Regions from separate parts of the Homo sapiens genome. Here region 1 is linked to region 2. A link means that fine-mapping ties the variant in region 2 to the expression of a gene that starts in the linked region. Tissue or cell type: whole blood. Region 2 holds a variant in brackets; the other region holds the start of a gene. All regions are shown on one strand. Distances are from middle to middle. Region 1 holds the start of CTSL (cathepsin L). Region 2 overlaps LOC124902198 (a long non-coding RNA gene).

Region 1 (12,164 bases), 22 kb before region 2:
AACAAGGACAGTGGGATTTTAGGTGAGTCTTTGGGTATTTTCCCCCCATTTGTCTTGCTTATCTGTATTATCTATGTTTTTCATAATGATCACTTGTTTTATTTGTTTTTCACCTAAAAAATTATTGAAAAATAACAGATGAAACTGCTGGAAGGATAAAAGGCTAAGGTCCTCTGAGAATCCTTGAAAACGGCCACCAGCAAGTTATTCATTAGAAATTTCAAAGGGAAATTTCCAAACCAAGCCACCTCAATGACAGGCTTAGTGCTCTAGGAACAAGGTGGAGGGGATGTGGGCCATTATTGTTTATAAGCCAGAGAGATGGTGGGTTACTTGCTCTATCTGGTAATTAAACATTCACATATTCTACATTTTTTAAATAAATCAATGCCTTTTTCATCAAATTACGAACAGGCCAGGACACTGAAGTTTGAAGGCAAATGTTCATTCCTGTCTGCTCCACATCTGGCTTTCCAGGACAACACAATGGTCAGTCCACTAAAAGTCAAGGAAGTCCTGATTTTTCTGGCTAGAAATCAAGAAAAGTCATTTTTTGATGTGCTTATTATGTTTCTGAGAATATGCAAGAGAAGAAGGAGAAAAACACAAGCCTTCCAGATGGGCCACTGCCGGTTAAGCTTGCATTTTAGGGAGAGGTGATGCCCACCTTTAACCTCTTTCGAGGCATCACACACTTTTGGGCTCAACAACCAAAAAACAACAGGGGAGAAAGCAATGATGATGGGAGCTGTTTTGGCTGAGAAACTCCAAGGGCCCAGGAGCTCCTTCACCCTACATCAAACCATGGAAAAGAGCTCACCAGAGATAGTGGGTTGGCATAGCTCCAGATCATGCTTATGGCCCTATATCCCTAATCCATCTCTCTCTGCTCTGTCCTAAGACTTCAGTTGACTGGCCTTCCCCAGGTCTCAAGGGCTTGTCACATTCTTCATTACTTTTCTGTGTTTTTCGACAATTCTATCTAACATCTTCAGTAATATGTGTTAAGGTATGGCTCTCATAAGAGTGTTTCAATGATTCAGGGGCACTCTAACCTTCCAAAACATTTGTAAGAAGAATAGTAGCTGTGTGCTTGGAACTGCCTTCTAAGCACTACCTAACCTATCTGCTTCAATCTTCTCAATACCCACATTTTTAATTCCCCTTTACAAGTGAGGAAGTGCAGGCTCTATACATTTAAGTGTCTCACCCAAAGTGACATGGTTGTCAAAAACTGAACTATGACTTGAACTCCAAATTATTTAATTCCAAAATAAGCGGACTTAATTACTCTTTACTTGTGTACTTGATTATTGCCTGTGTCTGCCTGTCAGCCATCATGCTCACCACTCACCAGACAAGTGGTACATCCTAAATAAGTATTTTCAGAATGAACGAATACTATCTTCCCTCGAGGCCCAGAGATTGGAGGCATCATGGTGGAACAGCAGCGGGTCAGTGCTTTGTTTCACAGTTCACTGAAACATCACGGCCAGTGGCCTTGTGGCCCCTAAGGAGTCCAGACAACTATGGAGTCCTTGGTACAAAAGCAGGAATTCCTTGTTTACTTGCAGAAACACTTCATGTTGAGACTTTTGTAGTCTTCTTCCTTCCTTCTTTCCTTTTTTTTCTTTTACTGTTTCTTTCCTTCCTTCCTTCCTTCTTTTCCCTCCTTTCTTCCTTCCTTCCTGCCTGCCTGCCTGCCTGCAAAGCTAGATCAACCAGCTTAAGTTGTTACAAAACTAGAAAATCTGAATTAAGTAGAAATCATGAATTGAACATGTTTCAGAGGGAAGGAACTAAATCTAGCCTCAAATGAGAAGCTTATTTCCCAAAATATGAAAGCCTTTAAAAATTATGGCTAGCATTGTTTTTGTTTTTCTATCAGGACACCAAAATCAAGTCTACGGGTGTCTGATTTTCAGACTTCAAAGACTTTGGGGCATGCCTCAGCACCCAGCCTCATCCCTCCTCTTCTCCTCTTGGATTCAGTCCCTTCTCCTGAGTTGGGAGGTTGTCTGGACAGTGTCTTTGCTATCTGCGTTGCTCCTCTCCCCACCACCCATGTGCATTTGCCCCTCTGTCCCTCAGTGCATTTCCCCCAGGATGCTCTGGCCAAACTGACCAGGTGTCTCCATCTCTGCCCCTTTTCTTTCCCCTGAATGCTGTCCAGTGTTTTCTGGAACCTGTGAACTTCCCGTGAATGATAAATACCAAGAGCTTCTCAAAATGAGACCCCATGTTCTAAACAGAACCTGCAGTCAGGATTCCAGGGAAGGTCAGCAGGTTCCCACCCCCAGAAGCACTTTGCCGTGTAAGACATTGTCTATGGAACATCAATGTCACTTAGGGCCTTGGAAAGACATTCAGGAAGGGAGTTACTACGCCTGAATTTCTGGAGATGTGTTTAGTAGGGAAGAATTCACTATAATCCATGAATGATTGATTGATTTCTAGAAAGGCTCACGCATGTTTCTTTTTGCCACTCAGGACTGGACCTCTGAATCAGTGCGGAATATGAATGAGAGCGGTCAGGGGAGAACTGGAGGATGCTGGTGGAGGCTGGAAGGCTTGCAGTCACCTGCCTGTGCTTATCTAAGTGATGAGAATGTAGGAGCAGCAGGACCTGGCCCATCACTACCCTATGTTTGTTACAGGAGAGAGGACCGTCCTCCCACAGGTCAGAGCTATTGTTAATCAAGGTGACAGTGCAAGATGCATTCCCACTCCTGACTTCTCGCTGTAAATAGGTTTCCTGAGTGGTGTTGGTTTATTTTCAATTTGGAAGCCAGTTCAATCAAATGTTTCACTAGATTCAAGTTTGATGAAAATACTAGCAAATCCCCCAACTAACGAGTCACTATAAGTAACTCAAGGCATCAGTCCTGCTCCCCACATAAGGGAGTACTGGTCCTGAGGAAATGGGACCACATATATAGGGAACAAAAGTGATACAATGGGCCATGAGGGTGTGATGAGTATCCCAGTGATTGCTTTGGGTAAATTTTGCTGGCCACATCGGTTTCAGTTCCTCTACATAGACAAGGAAATGCTCCTCATGACCGACAACAGCTCCTCCTGCACCGAGGCTGTCTAGTCATTAGAATGGTCTCTAGAAGACAATATCATCAGCAATCACTGCTAGCAAGGAGCTGGCTTCTGTGGTACTATGTTGTTGCTAATAGTTTTTGTTAGAGCAACTGCATTGTGGGAGACCTGATCCAGGGAAGGCAGAAACCAAAGCCTGTGCTCCCAAGGAGGTTATGGAAAATGAAGAAAAACACCAGCCCCTCTGCAGGAGGAAGCTGGAAATGGTTGGAAGGACCACCCATGGCTAGAGCCCCAGCACTTGGGTCATGACTCACCCTGGGTAGGTCAAGTACAGGCCCCACTTCTTCAGGCCTTGGTTGTGGATCAGACCCTGGATTCTTCCCCTCCGGGTACAGCCCAGTTGCCATGATGCTCCTTGAGTCAATGAGCTCTTTGGTCTGATCTTCTGCTCAAGCAAAGAAAGGGTCCGGCTTCAGTTCTCAGAGGCTGATAAGTACCAAGGTGGCAGAATATGGGAGTATCCTGCAGGTGCTCCCAGCATCTGCCCTGGCTCAGGTGCCAGAGGCTTGCGATTTTCTAGCTCTTGACCTCACACCCTCGATTGTTTGTTTTCCAATTCCTTCCTGAATAACGGGGTGAACATGCCACCCCTCCTGGTGGCGAATGGGGTTCCTCAGAACTGGGAGGCCACAGTCCAGATTCTGAGGCTCTTCACTAAGCAAGTGCTGGAGAGCAAAGCCACTCACTCACAACTCTCTCTCTTTCTCTTTCAAATTTGGGGAAGGGGAGGCCATCTGAGCAGTTTCTCTCACACTCCCCAGTAAGGAACTCATGAAGGACCAAGTGAGCTCTAAGCCCCCGGTAGAAACATTCAGCTGTTCCAATGAACTTCTTGTGATCCTGAAATCTGCAAAGTTAGAACCAAGGCAGACGTAGGTACTCCAGTTACCTAACACCACAGAAATATTGTTTTTATTTCATAAAATAATAAATTTAAATACTGCTATGGTTTCCTTGTTTGCCCCCTCCAAAACTCTTGTTGGAACTTATCTCCAATGTGGCAGCATTAAAATGTGGGGCCTTTAAGAGGTGATTAGGACATATGAGCTCTTCCCTAATGAATACATTAATCTATTCATGGAATAATGGGTTCATAGACCAACAGGTTATCTTGGGAATGGGACTGATGGCTTTTTTTTTTTTTTTTTTTTTTTTTGAGATGGAGTCTCGCTCTGTCACCCAGGTTGGAGTGCAGTGGCGTGATCTCGGCTCGGCTCATTGCAACCTCCACCTCCCAGGTTCAAGTGATTCTCCCGCCTCAGCCTCCCAAGTACCTGGGATTACAGGTGTGCACCACCACGCCTGGCTAATTTTTGTATTTTAGTAGAGACAGGATTTCACCCTGTTGGCCAAGCTGGTCTCAAACTCCTGACCTCAAGTGATCTGACTGCCTCGGCCTCCCAAAGTGCTGGGATTACAGGTGTGGGCCACTGCGCCCAGGCAGGACTGATGGCTTTAAAAGAAGAGGAAGAGACCTGAGCTAGGACACTCAGCCCTCTCGCCCTGTGATGCCCTACACCACCTTGGGCCTCTGCAAAGAATCCCCACAAGCAAGAAGGCCCTCACAAGATACACTTCCTGGACCTCAGACTTCCCAGCCTCGAAAACTGTAAGAAATAAATGTTGTTCTCATAAATTACACAGTTCCAGGTATTCTGTTATTAGCAACAGAAAAGAGACTAGGACAGATATCACAGTTAGATTGTATTCTACACATTGTGACTGGTTCTCCAGAGAAGCAATGCATAAAAAGAGGAATAATCGGCCGGGCACGGTGGCTCACACCTGTAATTCCAGCACTCTGGGAGGCCAAGGCAGGCGAATCACGAGGTCAGGAGTTCAAGACCAGTCTGGTCAATATGGTGAAACCCCATCTCTACTAAAAATACAAAAATTAGCCAGGCGTGGTGGTGCGCGCCTGTAGTCCCAGCTCCTCTGGAGGCTGAGGCAGAGGAATCACTTGAACCCAGGAGGCAGACATTGCAGTGAGCTGCGATTGCGCCACTGCACTCCAGCCTGAACAACAGAGCCAGACTCCGTCTCAAAAAAAAAAAAAGAGGAATAATCTCCAAAATAGTAAACAAATTCCTGCAGACAGGAAATATAATGGTAGATACCTGAGCTAGGAGAGGGGGAATGGGGAACTATTATTCAATGGATACAGTTTCAGTTTAGGAAGATAAACAAGCTCTGGGAATAAACAGTAGTAATGGTTACACAATGTGAAGGTACTTAATGCTACTGAACTCAAAGTTGGTTAAAATGGTACTTGCTATGTGAGGTATATTTTACCACTTAAAAAACTATAGGTGATTGTGCTTCTAAAAGAGTTATCAGTTTAATCTTCAATAGAAATCAATGGACTTTGTTCATTTTTAACAAAGTCAAAATATGCATACGAAAAGGTTATGGGGTAAAGGCAGAGGTAATTATTTTTTTCCCCGAAAGGTATTTTCTACAATGAATGTTTTTATGTAATAAAAAATGAAATGACAAAAGTTTAGAATGTTTGTGGGTTTTGTTCCTTAAATCCTTAATTACATAAATTAATATCTACATTATACAGATTAAGATACATATTTTTCCTCTATCTACAACATTTCTCCATTCTCTGTATCTTAAATCCTGACATTAAATGTCATTAAATTTCTTAAATCTCAAGAGAACGACTTGGTTACCAAGGAAGATATAATCCATAGCCTAGAGAGTGGGCGAATAAAAGCAGCTTCTAATGTTCTCAACTGCTTTTCTCCTGTCAACCAAATGTTTCTGTAAATAACTCATTTCTGTTGGTTTTGGGTAAGACGTGGGAGAAGGAAGAATCCCTGAATGGAGGAGTCTGGAAAGGATGCTTGACAAAACGCCCGCGCTCTCTGGAGACGCAGCCAGTCTCCTCCCTCCTAGGGTCTGGTCTTGACGATAGCATCTCGTGTTTTGGGGATGCCTTTCCTTACCAGATTCTTCTAAAGCCCAGCTGCACCCACCCTTAAGTGGGAGATAAGGCTTCTGCCCGCGGGCTCTGCGTTCGTCCACCCGGCCCCACGTTTGCTGTGGACTAAACAGGAGCCACTGGACTAGAGTACACTTGACTCTCGGCTCTGCGGACCAAAAATTCCAGGACTAAGGAATAGCAAGGTTAGGCTGAAACAGTCCACACAGGGCTTGCGGTAAACGTCTTTTCAGGAGCCACTCGCCCAGTGCAGTAAGTCGTGTACTTAGTTGACTCGAGCGCTCCAGGGAGACGCCCGACCCTACTCTGCGCCGCCCCGGGGCACCAGCTCTGCTTCCTCCAGGTCCACTGAGGCAGGCACGCCCAGCTCTGGGACAGTCAGTAAACAAGCCACGAACCGCGCCAGGGATCAGAGCACCCAGAGTCCCCGCCCAGCTGCCGGCACAGCCAATCGCAGCGCAGCCAGGCGGCGGGGCGGTGCCGGCCGAACCCAGACCCGAGGTTTTAGAAGCAGAGTCAGGCGAAGCTGGGCCAGAACCGCGACCTCCGCAACCTTGAGCGGCATCCGTGGAGTGCGCCTGCGCAGCTACGACCGCAGCAGGAAAGCGCCGCCGGCCAGGCCCAGCTGTGGCCGGACAGGGACTGGAAGAGAGGACGCGGTCGAGTAGGTGTGCACCAGCCCTGGCAACGAGAGCGTCTACCCCGAACTCTGCTGGCCTTGAGGTGGGGAAGCCGGGGAGGGCAGTTGAGGACCCCGCGGAGGCGCGTGACTGGTTGAGCGGGCAGGCCAGCCTCCGAGCCGGGTGGACACAGGTACCGCAGCCAGGCCGCGCCGCGCCGACTCAGGGCCTGGCCCGGCCAGACAGGGAAGCTCAGTCCCCGCACGCCAGACAGCGGTACTCCTGCTGGCGTCACCGCAAACATCCTCTGACCGCTACAGCCAGTGTGTGGCGCAGGCGTCATGTCCCCGGCCCTGCCACGCCTGGAGCCCTGGAAGCTGGCTGCAGGGCGCTGGCTTCCCGCGTGCGGCCATATGACCCCGTCCCTGATTTAGGGGAGCAGTTTGGGGTGTCGGCAGCACAGGCCCAAGTGAATGAAGGAGGGAGCAGTGCGTGCTCTCCTTCCCAGTTTTTCCTGGGAAAGCATTTCAGAAAGGTTTCATTTAAGGAGAGGTTGGGGCGGCGCGGTGGCTCACTCCTGTAATCCCAGCACTTTGGGAGGCTGAGGTGGGCGGATCACCTGAGGTCAGTAGTTCGAGACCAGCCTGGCCAACATGGTGAAACCCCGTCTCTACTGAAAATACAAAATTAGACGGGCGAGGCGGCGCACGCCTGTAGTTCCAGCTATTCAAGAGGCTGAGGAAGAATGGCTTGAACCCGGGAGGCAGAGGTTGCTGTGAGCCGATATCGCGCCGTTGAACTCCAGCCTGGGCCACAGAGCAAGACTCCATCTCAAAAAATAAATAAATAAATAAATAAATAAATAAATAAATAAATAGGAGAGATTGGAAAACTTATCTCAGCTTTTGGTGTTTGTTAGTCAGGAAGATGTGTGAAGGCCTCCTAACTCTTGGGGATCTCTTTGTCCCTACTTGGGAATCCCACCTTATCATTAGTGAGGTTTTGCCTGGGCACGAAACCTGGATTTTTTGCGATTGGTACAAAACCTGGATCAACCGTTTCCCGGTTTCCTAGTTGTTGCCTTAAGCTTCTCACACACAAGGTAGTTTCATACCGTTCTCATAACCTAAATTGTCATCGCATAAACTGTTTCAGCTCCTACAGCTCTGGACAGGCTGCTTTTCATTTTGGTGAGTCCATCCAGTACCTCCACGTGCCCTGTTTTTCTCCAGGCACATCCTTGGCCTCTTCCACAGTCCTTGGGTAAATGCTTGGGAGAATAATTTAAATATTTTTATTCTACCATGGTGGCCCTAATTTTTCAGGGGGCAGTAAGATGGCTTTTTAGGATTGGTCTAATCAGATCCTCATTTTTGTTCCCTTCCTAGGTTTTAAAACATGAATCCTACACTCATCCTTGCTGCCTTTTGCCTGGGAATTGCCTCAGCTACTCTAACATTTGATCACAGTTTAGAGGCACAGTGGACCAAGTGGAAGGCGATGCACAACAGATTATACGGCATGGTTAGTGAAACTTCCCCAGAAAGAATAGTCCTGGCTGTTGAGAAGTTTTAGTCAGAGAGTAGCTTCTAGAGGCCAGCTTTTACCAATAGCCTAATGTAATAACCTAATGGCGTGGATTATGAGCACAATGTGGACATTCATCCTTGTTGTGTCTCAGTTTGGAGAACAGCATCCCCAGAGGTGTCAAGCCTTCCCTTGCCATGGTTTCTCTTCCATCTCTGTCTGCAGATTCACTTGGTGAGGATGAGTTGGGTTTTAGGTAGAAGTAAAGAGCATCAGTTACATGTTTGCCTCTAGAATGAAGAAGGATGGAGGAGAGCAGTGTGGGAGAAGAACATGAAGATGATTGAACTGCACAATCAGGAATACAGGGAAGGGAAACACAGCTTCACAATGGCCATGAACGCCTTTGGAGACATGGTAAGTGTGCTGTGGACTGCCGAGCTCTGTGCTTCCTCTCTTCGGTTCTTTACTAAGGTAATCTCTTGCTTTTCAACATTTTATTTCCTTTTCCTTGAAGACCAGTGAAGAATTCAGGCAGGTGATGAATGGCTTTCAAAACCGTAAGCCCAGGAAGGGGAAAGTGTTCCAGGAACCTCTGTTTTATGAGGCCCCCAGATCTGTGGATTGGAGAGAGAAAGGCTACGTGACTCCTGTGAAGAATCAGGTGAGACAGTGTCAGGTTCAGACCTCCCATCTTCCCAGGAAAGCCAAGAAGTGATTGACATCTTTGTTTTGGTAGACTTTAAAGTGATGTACAGTTCACTTTTTAACAGTATTCAGATGTGTGAGCTGTTGTCAAAGTCTTATTATTTTTTTTTTGTGGATGACAGCTTTTTTTAATTCCCTTTTCAGGGTCAGTGTGGTTCTTGTTGGGCTTTTAGTGCTACTGGTGCTCTTGAAGGACAGATGTTCCGGAAAACTGGGAGGCTTATCTCACTGAGTGAGCAGAATCTGGTAGACTGCTCTGGGCCTCAAGGCAATGAAGGCTGCAATGGTGGCCTAATGGATTATGCTTTCCAGTATGTTCAGGATAATGGAGGCCTGGACTCTGAGGAATCCTATCCATATGAGGCAACAGTAAGTGGAGCTCCTTGTCATCATTCCAGCTCAGCTTTTGGAAGGTGGACACTTTAAGAGATAACAGATACCTTTTTCGGAATTCATATATTAGGGCTGGGTGGGGTGGCTCACGCCTGTAATCCCAGCCCTTTAGGAGGCTGAGCCAGGCAGATGGCTTAAGCTCAGGAGTTTGAGACCAGCCTGGGCAACAAGGTGAAACCTTGACTCTATCAAAAATACAACGAAAATTAGCCGGCTGTGGTGGTGTGCGTCTGTGGTCCCAGCTATGCTGAGGTAGGGCGATTGCTTGAGTGTGGGAGGTGGTTGTGCAAATGCACTCTCCAGTCTGAGTGACAGAATGAGACCCTGTCTCCAAAAAAAAAAAAAAGTTCACATATTAGATGGCAGAATATATATCTGCAAATTGTCAGTACTGTCATTATAAATTATTAGCCTTTGCACAATCCTGTGATTAGATGGGTAACATATAGCTGTTCTTGCTTCTATGTAACGTGAAGAATATACAAGCCATTCTAAATATACACATTTCTCTATTGTGAAAAATGTCTTATGGAAGTAAACCCAGAGGTCTCATTGAAGAGACTGGAGTCAATTTTCAGTTTCAGATTAACTAATAGCATTTCACTTCCTGGGATGATTTATAACAGTGGTGACTTGGAAATACTAAGCTGCACACTGCTGAGTGTTGTGGTTCTAACTCATGTTCTCCAGGAGGAGGACAGCAGTAATCAAGTCTTTTTTTTCCCTTTACCTTTGAAAGGAAGAATCCTGTAAGTACAATCCCAAGTATTCTGTTGCTAATGACACCGGCTTTGTGGACATCCCTAAGCAGGAGAAGGCCCTGATGAAGGCAGTTGCAACTGTGGGGCCCATTTCTGTTGCTATTGATGCAGGTCATGAGTCCTTCCTGTTCTATAAAGAAGGTAAGCATATTTTTCTTTGTAGAAATTGATGCAGAAAAAGAGTATCATGACATACGAGCATGATAGACTCTGGTTTGCAAGTAAAGTTCAGTGTAGATATTTAGGTGCTTAGCATCATAGTTGTTCATTCTGTACATGCAATATTTATACCTGATGTTTCCATTTGACATTATGTTGCGTATATCTCCATGAATATAAGTACTTCATAACTTTTTATAAATAGCTATATTTACTGTGTAGTTTAATATACTTAAAATATTCTGCAATTGTTGGATTTTTATAATTTTTCCAAAGATTTTTACTTCTATTATTAAATCCGAAAAGAGCCTTTTGATTCAAGGATTTTAGTGTTCTGTGCTATTTTTTTAGATTGATATCCTAGAGTAGAATTACAAGCTTACAAAGAGGGGTCTTTTTTTCCTCTAGGAAAGCTTTTTTTTAATGAAGGATTTATGCTGATTTCTATTTCTGCTAGTTGTAAATGAGAGCTTAAATCCCTGGCCTTCTTATTGTTGTTAAGTACTATCTGGAATGTGTGTCACTTCACTGAATTCAGAGATGCCTCATTCCCTGTGGGTGACAGGATGGGTTACTGTCATGTGTCCTCTGGAGCTTCTCACCCCAGCCCTCATTTTACCATCCCAGGCATTTATTTTGAGCCAGACTGTAGCAGTGAAGACATGGATCATGGTGTGCTGGTGGTTGGCTACGGATTTGAAAGCACAGAATCAGATAACAATAAATATTGGCTGGTGAAGAACAGGTATAAATTGCCAGAAATACTTACATTTGAAATTCAAAAGAGAATACTTATTTGCAAACAGTGTTTGGATACAGTTCCACATGCCCTTAGGCATACTTCTGAAATCCCCAGAAGTCTAAGTTGAACATATAATATTAATGTTTGATTATAAAAGTAAGAAACTGTCACAAATATCTTGGGAGTATGAATATAGTATTTGTTCCATTGTATAAAGGTGTATCTAAATCTGAACAGTTTTTAAATTCTGAGGCATATCTGGCTGCAAAGACATCCTATTGTTTTCCTGTCTCTGATCTGTAGTTCTGTGAAAGGTCACAGTTTGGAGGCTGGGATGGAAATTATGTCCAGGTTATGTCAAGAATTTTTTAAGGATAAACAGGAACATTGCCTGTCCTGATTCTTTCTGTTAAGTCTATGGCCTCTGGCACAGTGTTTAAGTTGGGTGTTCCTGTTAATAACCCTTTGGGCTTTATTCTTTCTCTGAAATGGAAAACCTGCTCTTTTTTCAGCTGGGGTGAAGAATGGGGCATGGGTGGCTACGTAAAGATGGCCAAAGACCGGAGAAACCATTGTGGAATTGCCTCAGCAGCCAGCTACCCCACTGTGTGAGCTGGTGGACGGTGATGAGGAAGGACTTGACTGGGGATGGCGCATGCATGGGAGGAATTCATCTTCAGTCTACCAGCCCCCGCTGTGTCGGATACACACTCGAATCATTGAAGATCCGAGTGTGATTTGAATTCTGTGATATTTTCACACTGGTAAATGTTACCTCTATTTTAATTACTGCTATAAATAGGTTTATATTATTGATTCACTTACTGACTTTGCATTTTCGTTTTTAAAAGGATGTATAAATTTTTACCTGTTTAAATAAAATTTAATTTCAAATGTAGTGGTGGGGCTTCTTTCTATTTTTGATGCACTGAATTTTTGTGTAATAAAGAACATAATTGGGCTCTAAGCCATAACTGCTGTGCCAGTGGCTCACTAGGAGGAAGAGTGGGTGGCCTTCTGGGTCTTCTAGTCACAGATGTACAGATCTCATGTCAGCTGCCCAGTGGCTATGTCTTAACCAATCCTTGATTGCAGCAAAATTTGAAAATGATCTATGAGGACAAAGGAAAATTGTTTGAATAAAGAAAAATATTCACTTTTTAGAAAAGTGAACATACATATATATAATTTTA
Region 2 (12,164 bases):
ATAAAAGAAAGAACGGCAACAGAAGAAAGGGCAGGAAGAAATTAAAAAGGGGTTAGAAGAACCTGAAGAACTCCAGCTGCTAACACCAGAGGAACAATTAGCAGATAAACCGCAGCTGGAGAAATCACAGGAAGAGTCAGACATGGAATTAGCAAAGGCAACTTTTGGTGTTAAGACTACTGTATATGGATCGGATGCTGTAAACCCATCTTCAAGGGATGACCTTACAGAGTTTGGAAAGTTACTAAAAGATAAAATTACACAAAATAAAAAGTCACTATATTATGCCAGTTTTTTGGAAGTCTTAGTTGGAGATGTGTGTATGTCATTGGAAACTGATGACTTGAAAAAGGTTCTCAATACATTGTGCTTTGAAGTGAAAAACAGAAGCAAGCAAAGCCAAGCCAAAAAGAAGAACAAAGGTATGGTTCCTGGAGGGAGATTAAAAGCCACCATGACAAATGATCTGGTAAATTATGGTGGTGATGATGCAGGGTATGCACAAGACTATGAAAATGTCATGTGACATTGCATCTTTTCCTGGTGTCATCTTTATGTTGCCCACGACCCCTTCAACGCACAGCACAACTTCCTTTCCTTTCAGTTCTGCCAAATGCTACAATCCAAAGTGCAGTCTCTTTCGTGCTGGTTATTTAACCCCTTGACACTTAGGTGTTAACGTGCAAATGAGGGAGCTTGGATCTTGCTGCCAAGGGGTTAAAATCAGGAACCTCAATTGCTACTAAATCATAGTCCAAAACAAAGCAAACCTAATAATGTCATTTTTGGTTTCAGATTTCATAGCGGCAGTCACTGAAAATTGGAAACAAAAGGCTGCAACAAGACAAAATAAATTGTGTAGTACTCAACAGCACTATTCAGTAATACAGCCTTAACCATACCTCCTTGAACTACTTCATAACTTGTCAAGAAAAGCAGCTGCAGCAAGGGCATGTGGCATGCACCTAGTATGAAAATTGCTTTGTCTTAAAATTGAATGTGAGGCTATTAAAAATACATTGTGAAGAAGACTGCTTATGCCAGAGTGAAGATACTGTGGCTGAAAAGCACTAGTTTGATTAAAATTAAATGACCAAAGCCTTCCAACTTTGAATCTGAAGAGGGTAAGCCTCTCCATTATAACATCACATGTTGTGGATTCTCTTGAATACAAAGACTGTCTAGTTACTGAAACCACCTTTGCAAAATTATGACTGAGACAGTGAAAGAGATCTAACTGAATTGATTCCATCCTGCTTCTAACCTCCAAGCTGTCCTTGTTCATTCTTGGGTGTAGGCTGAAGTAACTTTGGGAGAAACTTAGTTTATAGTTTAAAACAAAGACGATAACAGCCCTATCCCAAAGCAGACTTCCTCCTTGCCTGGGGACTACTGCCTTTGCAGGACTAACATTAGCCACAAGATTAGAAATTATGGTTTAGGAGTCATGCAGCTGGAGGCTGCAAGATTCTGACCCTCCCTAACCTGTTCCTAAGATCAGTGCGTGAGATATTTTGCAGCCCCTGCACTTAATGAATCAGCTGGCACCACCCAGATTAATAAACTGTCTCATCTGACCTTGTGGCCCCACCCAGGAACTGACTCAGCACAGAAGACAGCTTCGACTCCCTATTATTTCTTCTCTGACCAATCAGCAGTCTTGGCTCATTGGCCTCTCCCCACCCACCAAGTTGTCCTTAAAAACTATGCTCCCCAAGTGCTCTTCTGGGAGACTAATTTGAGTGATAATACAGCTCTGGTCTCCCACACAGCCGGTTCTTTGTGAATTACTCTTTCTCTATTGCCATTCCCCTGTCTTGAGAAATTGGCTCTGTCTAAACAGTGGGCAAGGTGAACCCCTTGGGTGGTGACATTACTTATCAAACTATTTCTACTGATGAAGTGCTTCAGATGGGGGCTTCAGGACTCTTTACCTGTTTTTGTTTGCCTGATTTAAGTGTCTGAGAAACAAATCTTAGTTCTCCTGGGCTGCAATAAAACAACTTTACCAGGGTTTTGGCATTTCCTTTCTTTTCCTTTATAAAATATGCTCAACAAACTGCACCAGTTAACTACAGTTTGATAAATTGCTAACAATTATGACATTTGCAATGATTTATAAAGCAACTATTTCAAATAAATAAATTACAAAGAGCATTAAAGGAGTTTATTCTATGAACAAAAGACAGCAGTTTCTGCCCCAGCCTAGAGAAGGTTCAGAACATGAGAAGGATTTGAAAGGAGAGCAGAGAAGTCACCTTTGGGTGTGAGTCCCTGAGCCACAGAGGTAGGGGATGGGAGACAGGGGAAGGGTCAAGAATATGCATTTTTGCACATAGGAGTCTATGGCTATAAAACTGCTCATAATTAAACTAAAGAGCTTCTGCACAGCAAAAGAAACTACCATCAGAGTGAACAGGCAACCTACAGAATGGGAGAAAATTTTTACAATCTACCCATCTGACAAAGGGCTAATATTCAGAATCTATAAAAACTTAAACAAATTTACAAGAAAAAATCAAACAACCCCATCAGAAAGTGGGTGAAGGATATGAACAGACACTTCTCAAAAGAAGACATTTACGTAGCCAACAGACACATGAAAAAATGCTCATCATCACTGGCCATCAGAAAATGCAAATCAAAACCACAATGAGATACCATCTCACACCAGTTAGAATGGCGATCATTAAAAAGTCAGGAAACAACAGGTGCTGGGGAGGATGTGGAGAAATAGGACGCTTTTACACTGTTGGTGGGACTGTAAACTGGTTTAACCATTGTGGAAGACAGTGTGGCGATTCCTCAAGGATGTAGGACTAGAAATACCATTTGACCCAGTGATCCCATTACTGGGCATATACCCAAAGGATTATAAATCATGCTGCTATAAAGACACATGCACACGTATGTTTATTGCGGCACTATTCACAATAGCAAAGACTTGGAACCAACCCAAATGTCCATCAATGGTAGACTGGATTAAGAAAATGTGGCACATATACACCACGGAATACTATGCAGCCATAAAAAAGGATGAGTTCATGTCCTTTGTAGAGACATGGATGAAGCTGGAAACCATCATTCTCAGTAAACTATCGCAAGGACAGAAAACCAAACACTGCATGTTCTCACTCATAGGTGGGAATTGAACAATGAGAACACATGAACACAGGGCGGAGAATATCGCATACTGGGGCCTGTCGTGGGGTGGGAGGAGAGGGGAGGGATAGCATTAGGAGATATACCTAATGTAAATGACGAGTTAACCGGTGCAGCACACCAACATGGCACATGTATACATATGTAACAAACCTGCATGTTGTGCACATGTACCCTAGAACTTAAAATAATTAAAAAAAAAAGAAAAATAAAAAACAAAAATAAAGTTAAAAAACTGCTCATTATTATATGTTAATATAAACATACTACATGTTATTATATATTAAGTTTATCCCAAATGTTTCTGACAATGTATTAGGTTGGTGCAAAAGTAATTGCGATTTTTGTCGTTACTTTTAAATGGCAAAACCGCAATTATGTTTGCACAAACCTAATACATATTAAAGACAATTTTCAAACTCATGGGTTCTAGAACCCTTGTGAGAACAGTCAGTTTTCCTAATGTAACTTCTAAAAGTACTTATTAGGTGGGAAAGCAGTGTTCTTTTTTTTTGAAATAGGGTTTCTGGTTCTGTCACCCAGGCTGGAGTGCAGTAGCGTGATCGTGACTCAATGCAACCTCCACTTCCCAGGCTCCCAAAGTTCTAGGATTACAAGCATGAGCCACTGTGTCTGGCCACAGTATTCTTGTGATCATTGGAATCTGTAGTGTAATCCCACCATAATGATTTGGTAATGGGGTTTAAGGTCCCACTTATACTTAGAAAAGAAAGTTTTAATAACAGGAATAAATTAAGGGGATAAATTTTTCTGAAGTTTTGTTGAAACTTTAAAGAGAAAATCTTACAACATGAAGGCTAAAAAGATTTCCTGAACAAAAGAAGGCTAAGGCACAGTTAAATAAAACAGTGTTCGTTACTGTCAATTTGCACTTGGTTTCTGGTGGCAAGTAATTGGGGTGTGTCCTTGACTGGATCTCTCAATGAGATTTATCAGTCATTTGAATGAATATGGTGGTGACGCTTACAGGAAGCTTGAAGGTACTTTAAATGCTTTTTTACTTTGTAATTTTTGTGGGTACATAATAAGTGTATATATTTATGGGCTATGTGAGATATTTTGATACAGGCACGCAATGTGTAATAATCACATCAGAGTAAATGGAGTATCCATCTCCTCAAGCATTTATCCTTTCTTTGTGTTATAAACAATCCAATTATATTCTTTTAGTTATTTTTACACATGCAAGTAAATTATTATTGACTACTGTTACCTTGTTGTGCTATCAAATACTAGGTTTGTTTCATTCTTTCTATTTTTTTGTACCCATTAACCATCCCCACTTCCCTTGACACTCCCACTACCCTTCCCAGCCTCTAGTAACCATCCTTCTACCCTGTATCTCCATGAGGTCACTTGTTTTAATGTTTAGCTCCACAAAGAAGTGAGAACATGTGAAGTTTGTACTTCTGTGCTTGACTTATTTCACTTAAAATAATGACCTCCAGTTCCATCCATGTTGTTGCAAATGACAGATTTGATTCTTTTTTATGGCTGAAATAGTAGTGCTTTGTGTATATGTACCATTGTGTATATGTATATTTTCTTTATCCATTCATCTGTTGATGGACACTTAGATTGCTCCCAAATCTTGGCTATCCTGCAACAAACATGGGAGTGCAGATATCTCTTCGATATGCTGATTTCCTTTCTTTTGGGTAAATACCTAGCAATGGGATTGCTGGATCGTATGGTAGCTCTATTTTTAGTTTTTTGAGGCATTTCCAAACTGTTCTCCACGGTGGTTGTACTTATTTACATCCCCACCAACAGGGTACAAGGGTTATGTTTTCTCCACATCCTCTCCAGCATTTGTTTTTGCTTGTCTTTTGGATATAAGCCATTTTAACTGGGGTGAGATGACACCACCTTGTAGTTTTGATTTGCATTTTTCTGATGATTAGTGACGTTGAGCACCTTTTCATATGCCTGTTTGTCTTTTGTATGTCTTCTTCTTCTTCTTCTTCTTCTTCTTCTTCTTTTCTGAGATGGAGTTTCACTCTGTTGCCCAGTTGCCCAGGCTGGAGTGCAGTGGCGTGATCTCGGCTCACTGCCACCTCCACCTCCCAGGTTCAAGTGATTCTCCTGTCTCAGCCTCCCAGGTAGCTGGGATTACAGGCGTGTGCCACCACACCTGGCTAATTTTTGTATTTTTAGTACAGATGAGGTTTCACCATGTTGGCCAGGCTGGTCTTGAACTCCTGGCCTCAAGTGATATGCCAGCCTTGGCCTCCCAAAGTGCTGGAATTATGGGCGTGAGCCATCACACCCAGCCTGCCATTTGTATGTCTTCTTTTGAGAAA[T/C]GTCTATTCAGATCTTTTGCCAATTTTTTAATCAGATTATTAGACTTTTTTCCTATAGAATTGTTGGAGCTCCTTATATATTCTAGTTATTAATCCCTTATCAGATGGGTAGTTTGCAAATATTTTCTCCTATTCTATGGGTTGCCTCTTCACTTTATTGACTGTATTCCTTGCTGTGCAGAAGCTTTTTAACTTGGTATGATCCTATGTGCCTATTTTTGCTTTGGTTGCCTGTGCTTGTGGGGTGTTACTCAAGAAATCTTTGTCCAGACCAACGTCCTGGTGAGTTTCCCCAATGTTTTTGTGTAGTAGTCTCATAGTTTCAGGTTTCGAATTTTAGCCATTTTGATTTTATTTTTGTATATAGTGAGAGATAGGGGTCTAGTTTCATTTTTCTGCATGGATATTCAGTTTTTCCAGCACCATTTATTAAAGAAACTGTCTTTTCCCCAATGTTTGTTCTTGGCAACTTTGTAAAACATGAGTTCACTGTAGATGTGCTTGAGGGCACACACAAAAATCCATCCCACCCCACTAAGCCACCCAAACAAACATGAAAGACAAAAACTGTTTTTGTTGGGGAAACACAGCTCTGGAACTAATTCCCTGGGCCCCTTGTTAACACCAGCCCCTCCTATAAGAAAATGATTTGTCGAAGCTTCAGTGACCATTGAAGGGATGCTCTATAAGACAAGTCTGTTGACTGAAAGAGACAGAAACCAATGTTGAAGCTACTTATGCAAGAGGAGGACCTGGGTGGCACAGACCTGGCTGGATGCAGGGCTCACAGATCGTCATCAGCACTCCATCTCTTCCCACCTTCAGGACCTACTGTCCTCTGTTTTGCACACACTCCCAGCCAGGCTCACTTTTTATCCTCCTTGGAGGAAAGTGGGTTTCCCAGTTGTGTCTGGGCTGGTGCTGCTTGGCCCTGCCTGGGTCCCATGCTGGCCTCAGGATGAGAGGGATGGTCACCTCAGCTACAGCACATGGATTGCTCTGTGAAAAGCAATCTCCACAGGAAACCAGGATGGCTTCACCAGGGAGGCAGAACAACAAATGCCCATGACAGAGGGCATGCACCGTGAATAAAAGAATCAGGATTTTAAACAGAAAGGCAGAAAGAAGAGGACTTCCAAACCCTAGAAAGTTTAAAACTAATAGAATAAAATTTACTGTGCGTAAATGTAAAGCCTTATGTTGAGATTAAATATATGTATGTGTGTCAAATTTTATCTAAAAATATATGTAGCCAAAGAGTCAGAAAAAATAAAAATAAAAAAGTAACAAAAGTAAAACAAAAATATATGTAGCCATATTCATGTGATGCAACTACAAGAAAAAAGTAGAAATGGTTTAGTAGTGTCCTTAAAAAAAAAAGTCTTAGTTTTTGGTTGCTGGTCACTTTGAGATGGTTATCAACGTGATTTGGACACTTTAAAAGTTTGCAATAATGAGATTAAAAAGCAAGATAAAGGAGGAAATAGTGCTGTTAATGCCTATTTCATGGTGTCATGTCTGGAATATTGTGCTTGAGCCTGGGGGTGCGGGTGGGGGTGACATTTTAAGGACACTAGCGAGCATTCAAAGAAGAATCAGCATCCAGCTCGTGAAAACGACCATGACACCTCCCCTTCCACCCCCCTTGCCCCAGAGCATGCCATTTTAAGGATTATTTTGAGTGTAAAGAAACTAAAAATCAATAGATAGAAGATTATTTCTCTGCTCTCCCCTCGGATGCCTAAAACCCGGGCATAAATTTCCCTTTGTTAAGGTGGCATGGATTTCCCCCTCTCCTGTACCAGGATGAGGAGAGGGAACACTTGTCACCAGGGACAGAGAGCCAACACCAAAATAAGTCTGCATAAACAAGCCTCCCTAAATAAGCAGGATAATCCATTAGTTCCCACATAGTTTTCCTAGTCACTTTTCCACAATTAATCATTCCTCAAAGCCCAAATCTTCTTTCCTTTGTTAAAATGGCACATAAGCCTCTGAGTTTAGCCATTTCTTTGACTTTCCTTTCCTTTCTGTGAACTCCTGTGTATGTAAAATATTAGTAAACTTTCTATTATTTTCTCCTGTTAATCTGTCTCTTGTGAGTCAAACTTGCAGAGCCTCCCAGTCAGTGAACCTAAGAGGGAAGAGAAAATGTATTTCCTTCCTGGCACTACAAATGGTGCATGTTTGTTGAAAGGAAGTACTTAACTGCTACACGGCAGGAGGTATAATCCAGACAGAAGTAAGAAGTGTGCTGGATATTAGAATATTCCTGCTCTTCATAAGTGGATGAATTATATGACCACCAATTTTCCAGTACTCCTAAAATTTTTGATCCCAAAGGTACCTTAAATCCCTCTAAAACAAGAATAAAAAAATTGAATACCTTGTTGAGAAACAGATGTTCAGAACTTTTTCATCTTGTAGAATGGAAACTACACCTATTAAACAACAACTCCTGTTTTCCTCCCCATCCCAGTTCCCACTAATCACCACTCTACTTTCTATTTCTATGAACTTAGCTGCCTTAGATAACTTGTATAAGTAGATTCACACAATATTTTCCTTTTTGTGACCATGCTCTTACTCTTAGGACAATGGCCTTAGGGTTCATCCATGGGGCAGCACGGGACATGATTTCCTTCCTTTCTAAGGTCACAGAATGTTCTATTGTGTGTCTATTTTCAAAGGAGGAATTCTGGAGATGGGTGATTATATCAACACTCACGGTATCTTATTTAATTTTTAACACAAAATTATGAGGTCATTGCTGTTATACACATCTATAGTGGTTAAAATCAAGCCTTCGAGACTGAAAGTAATTTGCCCAAAGTTTATGCATACCAGAAATGAGACTTGAGTTATCTTCTTCCCAAACCTTTGCCATTGAGTAGGAAACTCATAAAGTCAAAGGGCACTGGAATTGTTGCTTCTATTGGTTTGTCATTTTTTTCCACTTACTGTTTTAGTGCAGACATGTCTGAAATGCAAACAGGTTTTAAAATGGAAGCTTTGGAGTATTCCGTAATTATGGTTATCAACGTTTAGTATTTCCAGCAAAACATTCTTATTTATCAACTTCCCCATTTATCTCAATCAAAATAAGTAGGAAAAAGAAAAAGCATAAATAGTTCTCACTGCTTCTACAATCCAAAAGAAAAATAAAAAATATAAGCGAGAAATGCAAGTTCAGAGAAGTTCCCAATTTTCTTCCCTTTCATCATTGGGCAAAATGATCAAACTATTCTTGCTGAGTGGGCAACTCCCCATGGTACTTCAGAAAGGCTTTGTTGCCTGGTGTGGCAATGCCTAAAAATTCCTTAGATGCTAGGGGAAATGCAACAGCATTGTCCCAGATGACTGTACTATGCTGTTTTTCTTTTTCTTTTCTTTTATTTATTTATTTATTTATTTATTTATTTATTTATTTATTTACTTTTGAGACAGAGTTTCGCTCTTGTTGCCCAGGCTGGAGTGCAATGGCATGATCTCAGCTCACCACAACCTCTGCCTCCTGGGTTCAAGCAATTCTCCTGCCTCAGCCTCCCAAGCAGCTGGGATTACAGGCATGCACCACCACTCCTGGCTAATTTTTCTATTGTTAGTAGAGATGGTGTTTCTCCACGTTGGTCAGACTGGTCTCAAACTCCTGACGTCAGATGATCCATCTGCCTTGGCCTCCCAAAGTGCTGGGATTACAGGTGTGAGCCACCGCACCCGGCCACTATGCTGTTATTCTTGATATCACTAGATTAGATATTTTGTTGAGTCTTACCTTAAATACCCTTCATGCTAGTTTGTACCAGTAATCTCACACACCTCAAGCTGTTTCTCTTTCTCTTCACTGTCCCTCCATGGTTCCCTGGGAGAGGGGCAGCAGAAGAAGGTCCCAGCTCCCTGTGTTTGAAAACTGATGGGTTCAGGCAGGATTGGTGGCCCGTGGCTTGCCAGCCCAGATGCCACCCACATGGACCTCTTGCATTGTCCTGCAGGACTCTGGCAGAGTTCCAGAATCCACCAGGCCCCTGAGAATGGAGTGGTGAGGCCTTAGAGGACCGCTGCTGAGGACACTGGCTAGCTTCTGATGATGGGGACTCTCTAAAGAACACAGGAGTTCTAAGTTCCCTGAGGCACTTCTAAGCATCTCTAGGATAGCAAGGAGGGTCTAGGATTCCTGTGTCCTGGGGGCAGGAGAAATTCCCCAAGTCCACCTGAGACCCACTGAGCTGTGGGCAAAGTGCCAGGGTCCCGGGGAGTTGTAGCCAAATTAGCAACAATTCTTCTCTTAGCCTAATTATCATTCTGCCATGGTATTTACTGGGTGTCTATCATATACTGGGGACCCCTACACTGTAAAACAAAGTCTCTGTCCTCAAGATGCTTTGGTTGGGGAGATGGGATATGTAACAGTTTTGTTTGTCCTTCTGATATAACTAAAACATGTTTCTTATATCATTCAAATCATTATTTAGTTTCATTTATCCCTTTGAACTTGGGGAAAAACTCACTCGTTTACCACTTCACATATTTCTTAATCAAATTCTACTCACTTCCGCAGAGTCTTGCAACCATCCCTGACACTACTCCTGAGTGTTGCATGTCAGTAACTTTCTACATGAAGCACATAGAAATTTGGAAGTTGGAAGTGTGCATGAGGAGTAGGGTACTGTGCACTGTGGGTGGATTTAGAGGATTCACAGGCCACATCCCCAGTGTAGACAATAATTAGCCTGGCAATGGTGACCTTGTATGGACCTTGCTCCGTGAACCACAAATCTGGGATGCTGGCCAAGGAAACACTCAGGCAGAACACCCCAACACCAAGGCTTTTTATTTTATTTTATTTTATTTTATTCTTTTTTATTTATTATTATTATTATTATTATACTTTAAGTTTTAGGGTACATGTGCACAATGTGCAGGTTAGTTACATATGTATACATGTGCCATGCTGGTGCGCTGCACCCACTAACTCGTCATCTAGCATTAGGTATATCTCCCAGTGCTATCCCTCCCCCCTCCCCCCACCCCACAACAGTCCCCAGAGTGTGATGTACCAAGGCTTTTTAATTGCCCGGCAGTGGGACTGTGAACCTGGGAGACCTGTGCCTTCAGCCATTGCTGATTCCTCCTTCTAGAGTGGGAGATCAGCACCTGGACAGAGGACACTGTGACTAGAAAATGCATTTAAAAGAAGGGATTATTGCTTCCTCGGATCAGACTGTGTGATCTACAATGAACTCTTACATGTTATTTTATCTGGCATTCTAACAATGATCCCAAAGAAACATCAGACTCCTTGTTCAGAAGGTAGGTTAGTTCTCAGCAGTACAAGTTGGGTCCTCAGTGGATCCTGTGCATTTGAGGATGAAGTTTACAGATGCTTTGGACCGTAGCTGCAGGTCTGATTTGAGGACAATGAGACCAAGTCAGGGAGGCAGCAACTAATGGGGGAGGGAATAAGACACAAGAAATAACAAACATAAAGTACCAGAGTGGACTTAGTAACTCAGCAGAACTTCCAAATCTCATATTGAGATTGCCCTGGTTTTGGCATGTTGAAGGGATCATATACAGGGAATGGGGAATGCCTAATTATATGGGTCTATTTCCTCTTTATGGTCTCAAAGATTTTTTTAAGAGTTTATAGGATTATTTTTTTAATTACATAAGAAAGATTTAATTTTTAACATCTTAAAATGGTTACAGTTCATGAATACCACAAGACAACCTAAAAAGGTGCAGTCTAGAGTAGCCTATTTGGCTGTTAGTAGCAAAGGTTTTGACCATGGTCAATGACTTAATATCCATGTTAGTCACTCCTGAGTTGATATTACTGTAATTTTTTTTTCTCATTGACTTGGGTGATAGCATAAAAAGTATACTCATTAATTTTACAAATGACAAATGTCAGATGTTACAACTTATTTTAAAGGGATTCCTGTGGTACTTCAAACTTTACTAAAGACAAAACAAACGGTTTTTATCTTCATAATTGTTTTGCTTCCTGGATCTCTCCCTTCTGTTCATGATATCAGTGACTTCACTGCCAAGGCTAAAGTGATATCATGAAAAGAAAAGAGAAACCCAGAAAGCAAAACAGTTATGAAGATAAAGACCATTTATTTTGTCTTTAGTAAAGTTTGAAGTACCAGAGGATTTCTAGGTAGGTCTAGTAAAAAAAAATGTAAAGTTTGAAGTATAGCCCAGTCAGGAAAGAATTCAGTGTTAACAGATACATATTTCAAAGTCATCCATCCACATGGAATTGGAAGCTGATATTATAAAAGTGGTTAACATGAAAGAAAGGTCAAGGAAGGACTTCGGTGAATGTCTATATTTTGGGGAATACATGGAGGGAGGCATTGTATAAGTCAGGAGTAGGCAGGTTATGAAGTGGTAAAAACAACCTTAAAAACCTGAATGGCTATATCAGTTTGTAATTGCAGCTGGGCCCAACTTAGCTGGATGCCTCTGCCTCACAGTCTGTAAGGTTACAGTCAAACTACAGACTGGGGCTGCTGTTTCATCTGAAGGCTCAACTGGTGCTGCAGGATGTGCTTCCAAGCTCACACACGTGGTTTTTGGCAGACTTCAGTCTCTTAACACATGGGCCCCTTTATGAGGCTGCCTCATGATATGACAGTTGGTTTTCCCTATGGAAAGCAGTCCAAAAGA

What was found.
Region 1: it holds the start of CTSL, and the variant in region 2 is fine-mapped to the expression of CTSL in whole blood (TOPMed, PIP above 0.99).

Annotation. Positions count from the first base shown.
Region 1 is chr9:87,719,525-87,731,688 of GRCh38, forward strand. CTSL (cathepsin L) reads left to right here and starts at 6,595. Exons shown (of 8, transcript NM_001912.5): 1 at 6,595-6,874; 2 at 8,070-8,205; 3 at 8,503-8,625; 4 at 8,726-8,872; 5 at 9,061-9,285; 6 at 10,049-10,211; 7 at 10,857-10,974; 8 at 11,484-11,945. The coding sequence starts at 8,080. The coding sequence ends at 11,583. RefSeq lists enhancers at 2,922-2,971, 6,386-6,907, promoters at 4,801-6,668, 5,019-6,640, 5,123-6,668, 5,135-6,567, 5,337-6,668 and 7 more, cis regulatory regions at 4,801-5,122, 5,190-5,192, 5,584-5,586, 5,652-5,654, 5,811-5,998 and 12 more and a silencer at 11,584-12,164.
Region 2 is chr9:87,741,428-87,753,591 of GRCh38, forward strand. It overlaps LOC124902198 (a long non-coding RNA gene), which reads right to left. Exons shown (of 2, transcript XR_007061644.1): 2 at 10,326-10,930. It also overlaps the pseudogene EIF3JP3. Among named protein-coding and RNA genes, the nearest start is that of CTSL, 21 kb to the left of the region's middle. The variant T/C (reference allele first, on the strand shown) is at 5,487.